3 linked regions of the Homo sapiens genome follow. The protein of the gene in region 1 purifies or fractionates together with the protein of each later gene. This does not show direct contact. Each region holds a gene or a part of one and is shown on either strand. Other genes may lie near its edges. The genes, in order: ABHD17A, CCZ1 and CCZ1B.

Region 1 (3,242 bases):
CTGCATCCAGGTCCGGAGGACTGGCCCATGAGGCCCTGTGGCTGCGGAGCTTGGCCATCCTGGGGCAGGGCCTACAGGGTAAGGTGCAGACCCGCAGCACACATCCGAGGTCTGGGCCAGCCTCGATTCCAGATCCAGCCCTCCTAGTCATCCACGTCCCCAGCCCTGCGCTTGCCTGGGCCCTTCACCGGTGTTTGAGCACCGCCCGGGCCAGTGCTGCTTTGGACGAGGAGACCCGGGTGGGCCTCTGGTGGCTTTTCCTGCTCACCATCCACTGGGCCTGTCTCGTCCTGGCCCTGCCCAGCCCACTGGTCTGACCTGCTCCCACAGGGACCAGGCACAGCTCTGAGAAGTCAGAGGCCCTAGGGAGGTGGGGTCGTCGTTGCCTTGGTGATATGCAGGCAGTCCCTGCAGTGGGCCTGGGAGCTGGTCCCCTGGCACCACCCTGGCTCTGGGGGCCTCCCAGCAGTGTGGGACGCTGACACCAATCACCACTTCATGCGACTTCCTCGGCCCCTCCTGTCTCTACTGCCTGGGCCACTGGCAGAGTCACACCTGCCATGGCCAGCTCTGAGCTCTGTCTGCTCGGCCATCTGTCCTGCTGCCACTTTGTCCTGCAGGAACCTAGGCCCAGAGCTGTGAGGGGGAGGCCAGAGCGTGCCCAGGGCCTCCACCGGGGATGTGTCCTGTTCGTTTGAGTGGTGACATCCAGGTGGCAGCTCGGGGCTCCTGCCTGTAGCAGGTGGCAGGGCTGGGCTGGCTCAGCACACTACTGACCATGGCTGCCAGGGAGCAGGCCAGGGAGGCCGAGGCAGAGCTGGAGCCACAGGCACCAGCCAGGCAGCATCCTTTGGGGCATGGGTGAGTGGCGAGCTGTGGAGTGCTGCCAGGAGGCTGGGATTCCAGGCCAGGGACGGGGACAGCCCTGCTGGTGGAGATGCCAGGCAGAGGGGACGCACACCTGCCCATGCTCCTGCCTTGCAAGAGGGCGTCTGCCTGGGATCAGAGCCTAGAGCGTGTGGGAGGAGAGTTGTGGGGTCCCGGCATGGGCAGGGTGGCAGGTGGGTCCCGTGTGCTTGGGACTGGGCACGAGGAGGCCTTGTAACTGGTGCTGGATCAGCTGGGTCAGGGGCCGCACACCAATGACCTGGGGGTGAGGGTGCCCCTGGGTGGGAGCTGGTGGTGCTGAGGTGGCCGAGGACTTGTCCACTCCCAAGGGAAGGTGCTGGTGGGAGGGGGTGCCACCTCCGCAGCCACCACCCTCGATGCTGACCTGGGTTGCACTGGCATCTCATTGGGCGTGGGGACTCCGAGAGTCCAAAATTGGGTGGAGACATTTGGGGACACAGCTGCCTGAATTCCTCATGGCCAAGGGGGTGGGCAAGGGCTGCAGGGAGGAATAGTGTCCGCTGTCCTGGCCAGTGCACCAGGAACGGTTTTCTAACCCTGGCAGGAAGGTGTGAAGCATTCAGGATGTGGGGGCCACACAGTTCCCAGTGTGCACCTAGGGGTGACCAGGAGGAGGAGAGGCGCCAGGGCCTCCCTTACCCCCGCCCCAGGGGCACTCCGTAGGCAGGATCCCTGCAGATCCTAGCTAGGAAACGCCAGTGAACGGCAGCGCAGGGAACGGGGCGGGGCCGCTGGCTTCGCCCACCGCCACGGTGTTGGGGGCTGGGGGTGGCCCTCGGGACTGGTGTGGAGCCTGAGCCTGACCCACTGACTTGGCTGAGTGGGGAGACTGGAGGGTCGCATCCGGAGCTGGGCCCGGGGACGCCCGCTGGTGGGAAGGGTGCGCGCGCGTCGGAGGCCGCGGCTGACCCTGCTCCGGCGCCGCCAGGTACGGCATCAGCCCGGACAGCATCATCCTGTACGGGCAGAGCATCGGCACGGTGCCCACCGTGGACCTGGCCTCGCGCTACGAGTGTGCCGCGGTGGTGCTGCACTCGCCGCTCACCTCGGGCATGCGCGTCGCCTTCCCCGACACCAAGAAGACCTACTGCTTCGACGCCTTCCCTAAGTGAGCGGCCCGGGCGGGGACGGGGGCGGGGCGGGGCCCGGGCCGGGCGCGAAGTCTCACCGGCTCCACGACCCTCCCGCAGCATCGAGAAGGTGTCCAAGATCACGTCTCCCGTGCTCATCATCCACGGCACGGAGGACGAGGTGATCGACTTCTCGCACGGGCTGGCGCTCTACGAGCGCTGCCCCAAGGCGGTGGAGCCGCTGTGGGTGGAGGGCGCCGGGCACAACGACATCGAGCTCTACAGCCAGTACCTGGAGCGCCTGCGTCGCTTCATCTCCCAGGAGCTGCCCAGCCAGCGCGCCTAGCGGCGGCCCCAACCGGCCGGACCTCAGCAATAAGGCGGCCCCCGGACCTCACCCCGCGCCGGCCCCCACCCAGGGGCTGCATGTGGACCCCCCGGGCGGCCCAGGGGACCCCGCCCCGACCCAGGGGCTGTGGACGATGTACAGGCAACAGAGCTACGCACTCCTTTCCTTTTGGAAGCAAGAAGAAAATACGTGAAAACGGAAATTAAAGATTTAAAATTTTAGGGCTGCTCTCCTTCCTTTCATGGCTCTGCTCACTCTCTCGAGCGCTCAGCGAGCTCGAAAGGGGGCCGGGGTTCCCAGGTTTCGTCCCTGAGTCCCTAGGAGAGATCGGCACGGACCCCCTTATAGGTTTTACTCTGCGGAAGTGGGGTGGGTCTCTGTCTAGTCCGGGGAGCCCTTAGGGAGCTGGTTGCCTGGGCGATGATGGGTGGGGCAGCGTTTGAGCCCAGGACCCCTGCCTGCTTCCTAGGGAGGCTGGTGAGCCCTGCTGGGTGGGCGCGATGAGGACGCCAGGCGTGGGGGCCCTGCTGCCATCGCGGGACTGCCCCCTCGACAGCTTCCCGTCAGTCCTACTGCAGAGGGGCCAGGACAGCGCACTCTGGGTCCTGAGGTGCCGCGCTTGACGGACCTCAGAGCTCGGACAGGCCGCTTCCTTCGTAGATGGCGAAGCTGGGGTCCAGCAGAGGGCGGTGGCAGGTGCTTGGGCCCCGAGGGTCTCCCCTGGAAGAGGGAGCCGACACTGGAGCTGGGATCACGAGAAGAGTTCCTACGATCTCTAGGGCAGAAGGCTTAGGACCGGGAGGACTCGGGAACCGGTGGCCTGTTGTCCACCTTAGGGTTGGGCAGGGTTCAGCCTGTGTCGCGCGACCAGGCGGTGGCGAGGCCGGGATCCCAAGCTGCATCCAGCTAGCTCT
Region 2 (3,648 bases), on another chromosome or scaffold:
TTGACATTTTTGGTGGAATCAGCTTCTTCCCGTTGGATAAAATGACTTATTTGAAAATCCAGTCCTTTATTAATAGAATGGAGGAAAGCCTGAATATAGTCAAATACACTGCTTTTCTCTATAACGATCAGCTCATCTGGTAGGTACACCCCGAGGCATGGTATTAAAAGAAGAAATTAAGATAATAAAAACAGCAGTGACTGGATTGATGACAGGTTGTCAAACAGGAACTTGCAGCGGGGAGGATGGGTAGGAAGCATCTTCATAGATATTGTCAAAATAAAGCAGTGATTATTTAAAGCAGAACTAGGGTGATTTGGGTTCAAATTTCCAAGCAGAGGAGTTTAAAACTGGTTGCATGAAAGATGAAAGGCTGGGCACGGTGGCTCACACCTGTAATCTTAGCACTTTGGGAGGCTGAGGCGGGTGAATCACGAGGTCAGGAGTTGGAGACCAGCCTGGTCAACATAGTGAAACCCTGTCTCTACTAAAAATACAAAAAGTAGCTGGGCGTGGTGGTGCATGCCTGTAATCCCAGCTACTCAGGAGGCTGAGGCAGGAGAATCACTTGAACCCGGGAGGCGGAGGTTGCAGTGAGCCGAGATGGCACCACTGTACCCCAGCCTGGCAACAGAGAGAGACTCTGTCTCCAAAAAAAAAAAAAAAAAAAAAAAAAAGAGAAAATGTTCCTATCAAGTAAGGTTTAGGAATCCTGTTTTTATTTTGGAGTTTTTTTTTTTTTCTGAAATGATAAAAGCAGAATTTTTATACCTTTTTTTTTTTTTTTCTTTCTTATAGAGACGGGGTTTACTGTGTTGCCCAGGCTGGTCTCAAACTCCTGGCCTCAAGCGATCCACCCGCCTCAGCCTCCCAAAGTGCTGGGATTACAGGCACGAGCCACTGCACCTACTTTCTTTTAAAGAAACTAGATTTCTTTTTTTTTAATCCAAGAAATCCAAAGTGTTATATAAACCAGGAAATTACCTGCTATCGTGAAACTAGGTTTGTGTCCTGCAGTAGGAACAACGTGGGCACAAGACTGCCCAGCATATGTGACCCCTGAGAGCTGGGTGGCAACCGAGGTTGTGCACATTTGGCCTAGAGTAGGTGGACAGAAGTCATCAAGGCTTGCAGCTGTTCTGGGACCCTCAAGTTTTATGTTCCCGTTGACTAGAGCCCACTTTCTTTCTTTCTTTTTTTTTTTTTTTTTTGAGACGGAGTCTCACTCTGTTGCCAGGCTGGAGTACAGTGGCGCGATCTTGGCTCACTGCAACTTCCCCTTCCTGGGTTCAAGCGATTCTCCTGCCTCAGCCTCCCAAGTAGCTGGGATTACAGGCATATGCCACCATGCCCGGCTAATTTTTGTATTTTCAGTACAGACAAGGTTTTACCATGTTGGCCAGGCTGGTCCTAAACCCCTGACCTCAGGTGATTCCCCTGCATAGGCCTCCCAAGGTGCCTCGATTACAGGTGTGAGCCACTGCACCTGGCCTAGCCCAGTTTCTTAATTAGGGGTGTGGCCATATGGTACTACTATAAGGTAAATTCAGCTAATAGAAAAGGCAAAACTAGTTCCCCTAAAATTTACCTTCCCTGCCAAAATCTTGTAGCTCCATTTTAAGAAGAGAAACAAGTTACTGTAAAGAAATTTGAATCCAGTTAATAAACAACTTGGTGGGTTTCCACATGAACTTTATCTCCTAGGAAGACAACAGAAATTTCGGGTGAAACCCATCTACTTTTTTTTTTGTTTTTGAGATGGAGTCGCTTTCTGTTGCCCAGGCTGGAGTGCAGTGGCATGATCTTGGCTTGCTGCAACCCCTGCCTCCTGGGTTCAAGCAATTCTCCTGCCTCAGCCTCCCGAGTAGCTGGGATTACAGGTGCATACCACAACACCCAGCTAATTTTTTTGTAGAGATGGGGTTTTACCATGTTGGCCAGGCTGGTCTCGAACTCCTGACCTCAAAGGATCCGCCCACCTTGGCCTCCCAGTGCTGGGATTACAGGTGTGAGCCACTGTGCCCCGCCTCCACCTACTTTCTAATTTGACAAATAGTTTATCAGGCAACCTTACACTGTACTGACTCAGCTATAGTTGCTTTCTGTGATATGTACACAATGTTACTAAAGTGAAATTCTGCTGTGAAATGTAGGAGATGGGAGGCTAGTTGTGCTTCTGTAGCATCAGGTCTGCAGAGGGATGGCTCCTCCACAGATGGAAATGACAGGACGTGCTTGCAAGTCACACGCAGCCACAGCGATAGGGAGATGTCATGTGACAAGCCAGAATCCAGCAGTAGTGGCCCATGGCCTTGCTTCCACCAAAAAGAGAAGGGTAGCTGAGATTCTGATCTCTGGGACAGAACACAAGCCCCGCCATGGGTGCAAACTCCTGAGAGTGAGGAAGAGGGAAGGCTTAGAGCAGAGGGTCTTCCAGGAGCTCATTCTGGGAGACCCTGGAGCCAGAGTGACCAGCAGGGTTGGCCCTTTGAAGCCTGGAGTCACAGGACAATCTGGCGCCCAGCTCTGGGGATCCTGTTGGCATCGTCATCTTGGAATAGCATCTGAGGGGTTGAGCAGGGCACAGCTCTGGTGGCTGCACAGAACTGTTCTGTTGTCACCTCCAGTGTGCTCGTGGGGAAAGGTCAGTCCCAGGAAGTAGCAACAAAAATAACCTTCAAGCAAAACAGGCGCCAATGCTTACACCTGTCATCCCAGCACTTTGGGAGGCTGAGGCAGGAGGATCACTTGAGACCAGGAGTTCAAGACCAGCCTGGGCAGCATAGTGAGACTGTATCTACAAAAAATGGAAAAAAAAAAAAATAGCTGGGCATTGTGGTGTGCACTTAGAGTCCCAACTACAGAGACTACAGAGGTTGAGGCTGGAGAATCACTTGAGCCTGGAAGTTTGAGGTTGCAGTGAGCTATGATAGCACCACTGTACTCCAGCCTGGGTGACAGAGCAAGACCCTGTCTAAGAAAAAGAAAAACAGCACGTTTTGACGGAATTGCTTATTCCAAAGCTGTTATATTAAATACCAAAAAGACTTTTAAGCCAGGCGTGGTGCACATACCTATAGTCCCAGCTACTGGGGAGGAGGAGGCAGAAGGATCGCTTGAGCCAGGAGTTACTTGGAGACCAGCCTGGACAATATAATGAGGCTCTGTCTCTACCAAAAAGTGGAAAAAAAAACTTGTCACAAGCAGAGTATATATTACCCTTATGTATTTACTTAGTATATTGCTTTGATTTTTTTTTTTTGAGACTGAGTCTCATTGGCTTGGTTGCCCAGGCTAGAGTGCAGTGATGTGATCTCAGCTCACTTCAACCTGCGCCTCCCAGGTTCAAGCGATTCTCATGCCTCAGTCTCCCAAGTAGCTGGGATTAGAGGTGTGTGCTATCAGGCCTAGCAAATTTTTATATTTTTTAGTAGAGACGGTGTTTCGCCATGTTGGCCAGGCTGGTGTTGAACCCCTGACCTTAGGTGATCTGCTCACCTTGGCTTCCCCAAGTGCTGGGATTACAGGTGTGAGCTTCCGCGCCCGACCACCTTCACGGTATTTCAGTGATCTTGAATAGAAAACGCCCAGATCCAGCCTCATTGTCTGTCTCCTTTTAAAAAACCGGTTCCAGAGTCTGATACCTGC
Region 3 (3,648 bases), on another chromosome or scaffold:
ATGATCATAGCTCACTGTAGCCTCGACCTCCTGGGTTCAAGTGATCTTCCCACCTTGGCCTCCTAAGTCGCTGGGACTGCCAGTACACACCGCCGGACCCAGCTAATGTTTTTGTGGTTGTTTGTTTAGACAGGGTCTCACTATGTTGCCCGGGCTGGTGTCAAACTCCTGGGCTCAAGCGATCCACCCATCTTAGCCTCCCAAAGTGCTGGGATTTCGGGCGTGAGCCCCCACACCCAGCCCATTAAATGATAAATGTGTTGTCATAAGCAATATAGAGGCATAGAGAGGAGCCCTGTTCCCCATCTGGGACCCCCCTGTCTCCTTAACTAGCCAGTGCTCATATTTTTTAAGTCCTAGTTTTCCCGCTAGTCAGCAGTAGAGTGTGGGCATCTTTCTGTGTCCCACCGACTGCGAGCTGGAGACAGCAGTGGTACCTCTCTCGGGGGGGTTCTGAGGATCGAATGAGGTCATGTCTGTGAAGCACCTGGCCCATGAGTGCTACGTAATGTTTGTTAAATAAACATACGACCTTCTGAGGTCTTTCTGGGGTAGGCAACCGTTTACCACCCTACAGGGTGTGCCTCGGTCAGCTTTTCACGGTGAGATAGGTCTTCGCCCTTTTTTCATCTGAAATGTAACCGGTTTTCTATCTTCTGTTTCTCTTCTATTTGAGGAGCAGAAGGGGGCCTGAGCATTCATTGTTTGTTTTCCCAGACCAGTGAAGTTTTCGTTTGAATACTGTTGTTCAGTGTCGCACAGTAAAATGAATCTTACTGGTATTTTTTGTCATGACTTGCCAGCCTCTGTCCACCCAACGTTGGATTTTTGCCGAAGACTGGACAGCATCGTTGGGCCCCAGCTCACAGTGCTGGCCTCTGACATCTGTGAACAGTTTAACATCAACAAGAGGATGTCTGGGTTTGTACTTTGCTTTCGGTTCACTTTCAGGCATTGAACGGCTTTTGAAATACACGTAGTTTTCACTTACAAATACGGGTGGTATTAACAGTCCTGTGTTCTCGTGGACTGTAGAGGATGGTGCTACGTGCCATTCAGGCCTCTGTCTGAAAGGGTCCCGGGGACAGTCACCCTGAGTGTTTCTGCCCCACGCTGGCAGCTGGGGCTGGGCCTTCTGGTAAATACCTTCCCTCAGCTCCCCCCGAATGGAACGTCCCATTTCACCAGCCCAGATTGTTACGTTCACTTGGACAGTAGTCATCGGCGTGGTCTTGGTGTGCACAGACTGAAAGCATTTTGCCTCTCGTTGTGTGAAAATGTGTAGGGGAAACTGGCTGGGATGTGGGGCACTGGGCCTGGGTACTCAGTCTGGCAGCCTGAAGTGTCTACACTGAGTGGGAGAGGCGGGATTCACTCCTCCGGCTCTCTAGACACTGAAATGTCCTTGAATTCTTTCTCCCTGGCTTTTTTTTTGAGACAAATTCCCACTCTGTCGCCCAGGCTGGAGTGTGCAGTGGCTTGATCTTGGCTCACTGCAGCCTCCGCCTCCCAGGCTCAAGCGATTCTCATGCCTCATCCTCTTGAGTAGCTGGGATTACAGGCGTGCACCACCATGCCCGGCTCCTTTTTGTATTTTTAGTAGAGACGGTTTCACCATGTTGGCCAGATTGGTCTTGAACTCCTGACCTCAAGTGATCCACCTGCCTCAGCCTCCCAAAGTGCTGGGATTACAGGTGTGAGCTACCGCACCCGGCCATGCCTATCTTTTCTCAATATAAAATAGTTATTATAAAGTGAAAGTGAGGCGATGGAAAGCACTTTGCGAAGTTGAAGTCCTGCTTTTAAATGGGCTCTCTACACATTTGAGAAGTTACTAAAAGGCTGTGAATTTCTGCATACGCTCATGGTCTTAATGTTCATACGTTGTTTTTTGGGTTTTTTTTTTTTTTTTAAGACAGAGTCTCAGTTGCCCAGGCTGGAGTGTGCAATGGTCTGTTCTCAGCTCACTGCAACCTCCGCCTCCCAGGTTCAAGCGATTCTCCTGCCTCAGCCTCCTGAGTAGCTGGGTGCCATCATGCCTGGCTAATTTTTGTATTTTTGTAGAGACTGGGTTTTACCATGTTGGTCAGACTGGTCTCGAACTCCTGACCTCGTGATCCACGCACTTCGGCCTCCCAAAGTGCTGGGATGACAGGCGTGAGCCACCGCGCCCGGCCCATATGTTATTTCTGCATGGTCTTGTATAACCGTGGGCCTCTAAGAGCGCAGAAGCGAGCAAAGGTGAAAGCACCTCTAGGTTTTGTACAACAGTGTGTGGATTACTGCTGTCAACAGCTTACATCTTTGTTGCTTTTTGTTTTTATTTTTTGAGACAGAGTTTCACTCTTTCACCCAGGCTGGAGTGCAGTGGCATGATCTCAGCTCACTGCAACCTCCAGCCCCTGAGTTCATTCAAGCAATTCTCCTGCCTCAGCCTCCCGAGTAGCTGGGACTCCAGGCGTGTGCCACCACACTCAGCTAATAATTTTTGTATTTTTAGTAGAGACAGGGTTTTGCCATGTTGGCCAGGCTGGTCTTGAACTCCTGACCTCAGGTGATCCACCCACCTCGGCCTTCCAAAGTGCTAGCATTACAGGCATGAGCCACCATGCCCAGCCAACAGCTTATATCTTGACAGTGCTGCTGAATCATTGAATCCTTTGGCCGTGAAAATACCAGGTTTTCCTTTGTGAAGGAGGCAAAAGTGAGTTAAATCGGTTTGGATCATGCAGGTTATCAACTAACAGATGGAAAGTGACAAAGTGTAGTGACCATAGAGAACGTGTCACCTGTTTTGTTTTTTTGTGGGTTTGTTTTTGGAGACAGGGTCTCCTGCTGTCGCCCAGGCTGGAGTGCAGTGGTGCAATCATGGCTCACTGCAGCCTTGACCTCCCAGGCTGTAAGTGAGCCTCCTACCTCAGCCTCCCCGGGAGCTAGGACTACAGGTGTGTGCCACCACGCCTGGCTAATTTTTGTATTTTTGGTAGAGGCGGGGTTTCGCCATGTGGCCTAGGCTGATCTCGAACTCCTGACCTCAAGTGATTTGCCTGCCTCAGCCTCCCAAAGTGCTGGGATTATAGGCGTGAGCCACTGCTCCTGGCCTCACAGAGTGTTTTGAGGATAGAAGCTTACACCCGATTTAAGTTCCTTGTCTACCCAGACAACTAAATTTACAACTCTTTCCAAACAGTTTTTCTTGTCATTATACTTTCCTTAACCTTAGGGAACTATGAAAACAAATTCTGGTTTTATAAGAAGTTTCTTTACATGTTCCTGGAAACTCAATCCTCCACGTTCTTTCTTTGCCTGGACGTAGAGTATTTCATGAGTACCCCATTGGTCCGGAGGTCGGATTTCTGGTACCCCCAGCCCTCCAGAACGTGGCTGCTAACCCTGAAGCAAGCAGAGGAGGCCTCTGAGCCCAGGGGCGGGGCTGTGCTCAGGCCCCATCCAGGCCCCAGGGTGGACACTGAGGGTGCAGGGAGGGGAGGGGAGGGGCCCCAGGAGCAGTGAGGCCCAGCTTTTCCCACTAGGTCCCCGAGGAGGTCACAGACTCTGACCTGGGAGGCAGCGTCGTAGCACTGCCTAGTCAGTTTAAGAAATAAAAAGGTATATCCCATTTAAAATGTTCATCAGACTGCAGTGGAA

Evidence for each region.
Region 2: the proteins of ABHD17A (region 1) and CCZ1 purify together in Homo sapiens (affinity purification with mass spectrometry, with the first as the bait; one large-scale study listed by BioGRID). This does not show direct contact.
Region 3: the proteins of ABHD17A (region 1) and CCZ1B purify together in Homo sapiens (co-immunoprecipitation; one large-scale study listed by IntAct). This does not show direct contact.

Annotation. Positions count from the first base shown.
Region 1 is NC_000019.10:1,876,283-1,879,524, reverse strand, and holds the end of ABHD17A (alpha/beta hydrolase domain-containing protein 17A), read left to right. Parts: exon of another isoform or gene 1-620; coding exon of another isoform or gene 621-642; exon of another isoform or gene 643-778; coding exon of another isoform or gene 779-861; exon of another isoform or gene 862-1,831; intron 1,832-1,837; coding exon 1,838-2,017; intron 2,018-2,099; coding exon 2,100-2,325; 3' UTR 2,326-2,715; downstream 2,716-3,242. UniProt on the Homo sapiens protein: Hydrolyzes fatty acids from S-acylated cysteine residues in proteins. Has depalmitoylating activity towards NRAS. Has depalmitoylating activity towards DLG4/PSD95. May have depalmitoylating activity towards MAP6.
Region 2 is NC_000007.14:5,905,131-5,908,778, forward strand, and holds part of CCZ1 (vacuolar fusion protein CCZ1 homolog), read left to right. Parts: coding exon 1-139; intron 140-3,648. UniProt on the Homo sapiens protein: Acts in concert with MON1A, as a guanine exchange factor (GEF) for RAB7, promotes the exchange of GDP to GTP, converting it from an inactive GDP-bound form into an active GTP-bound form.
Region 3 is NC_000007.14:6,802,211-6,805,858, reverse strand, and holds part of CCZ1B (vacuolar fusion protein CCZ1 homolog B), read left to right. Parts: intron 1-803; coding exon 804-921; intron 922-3,648.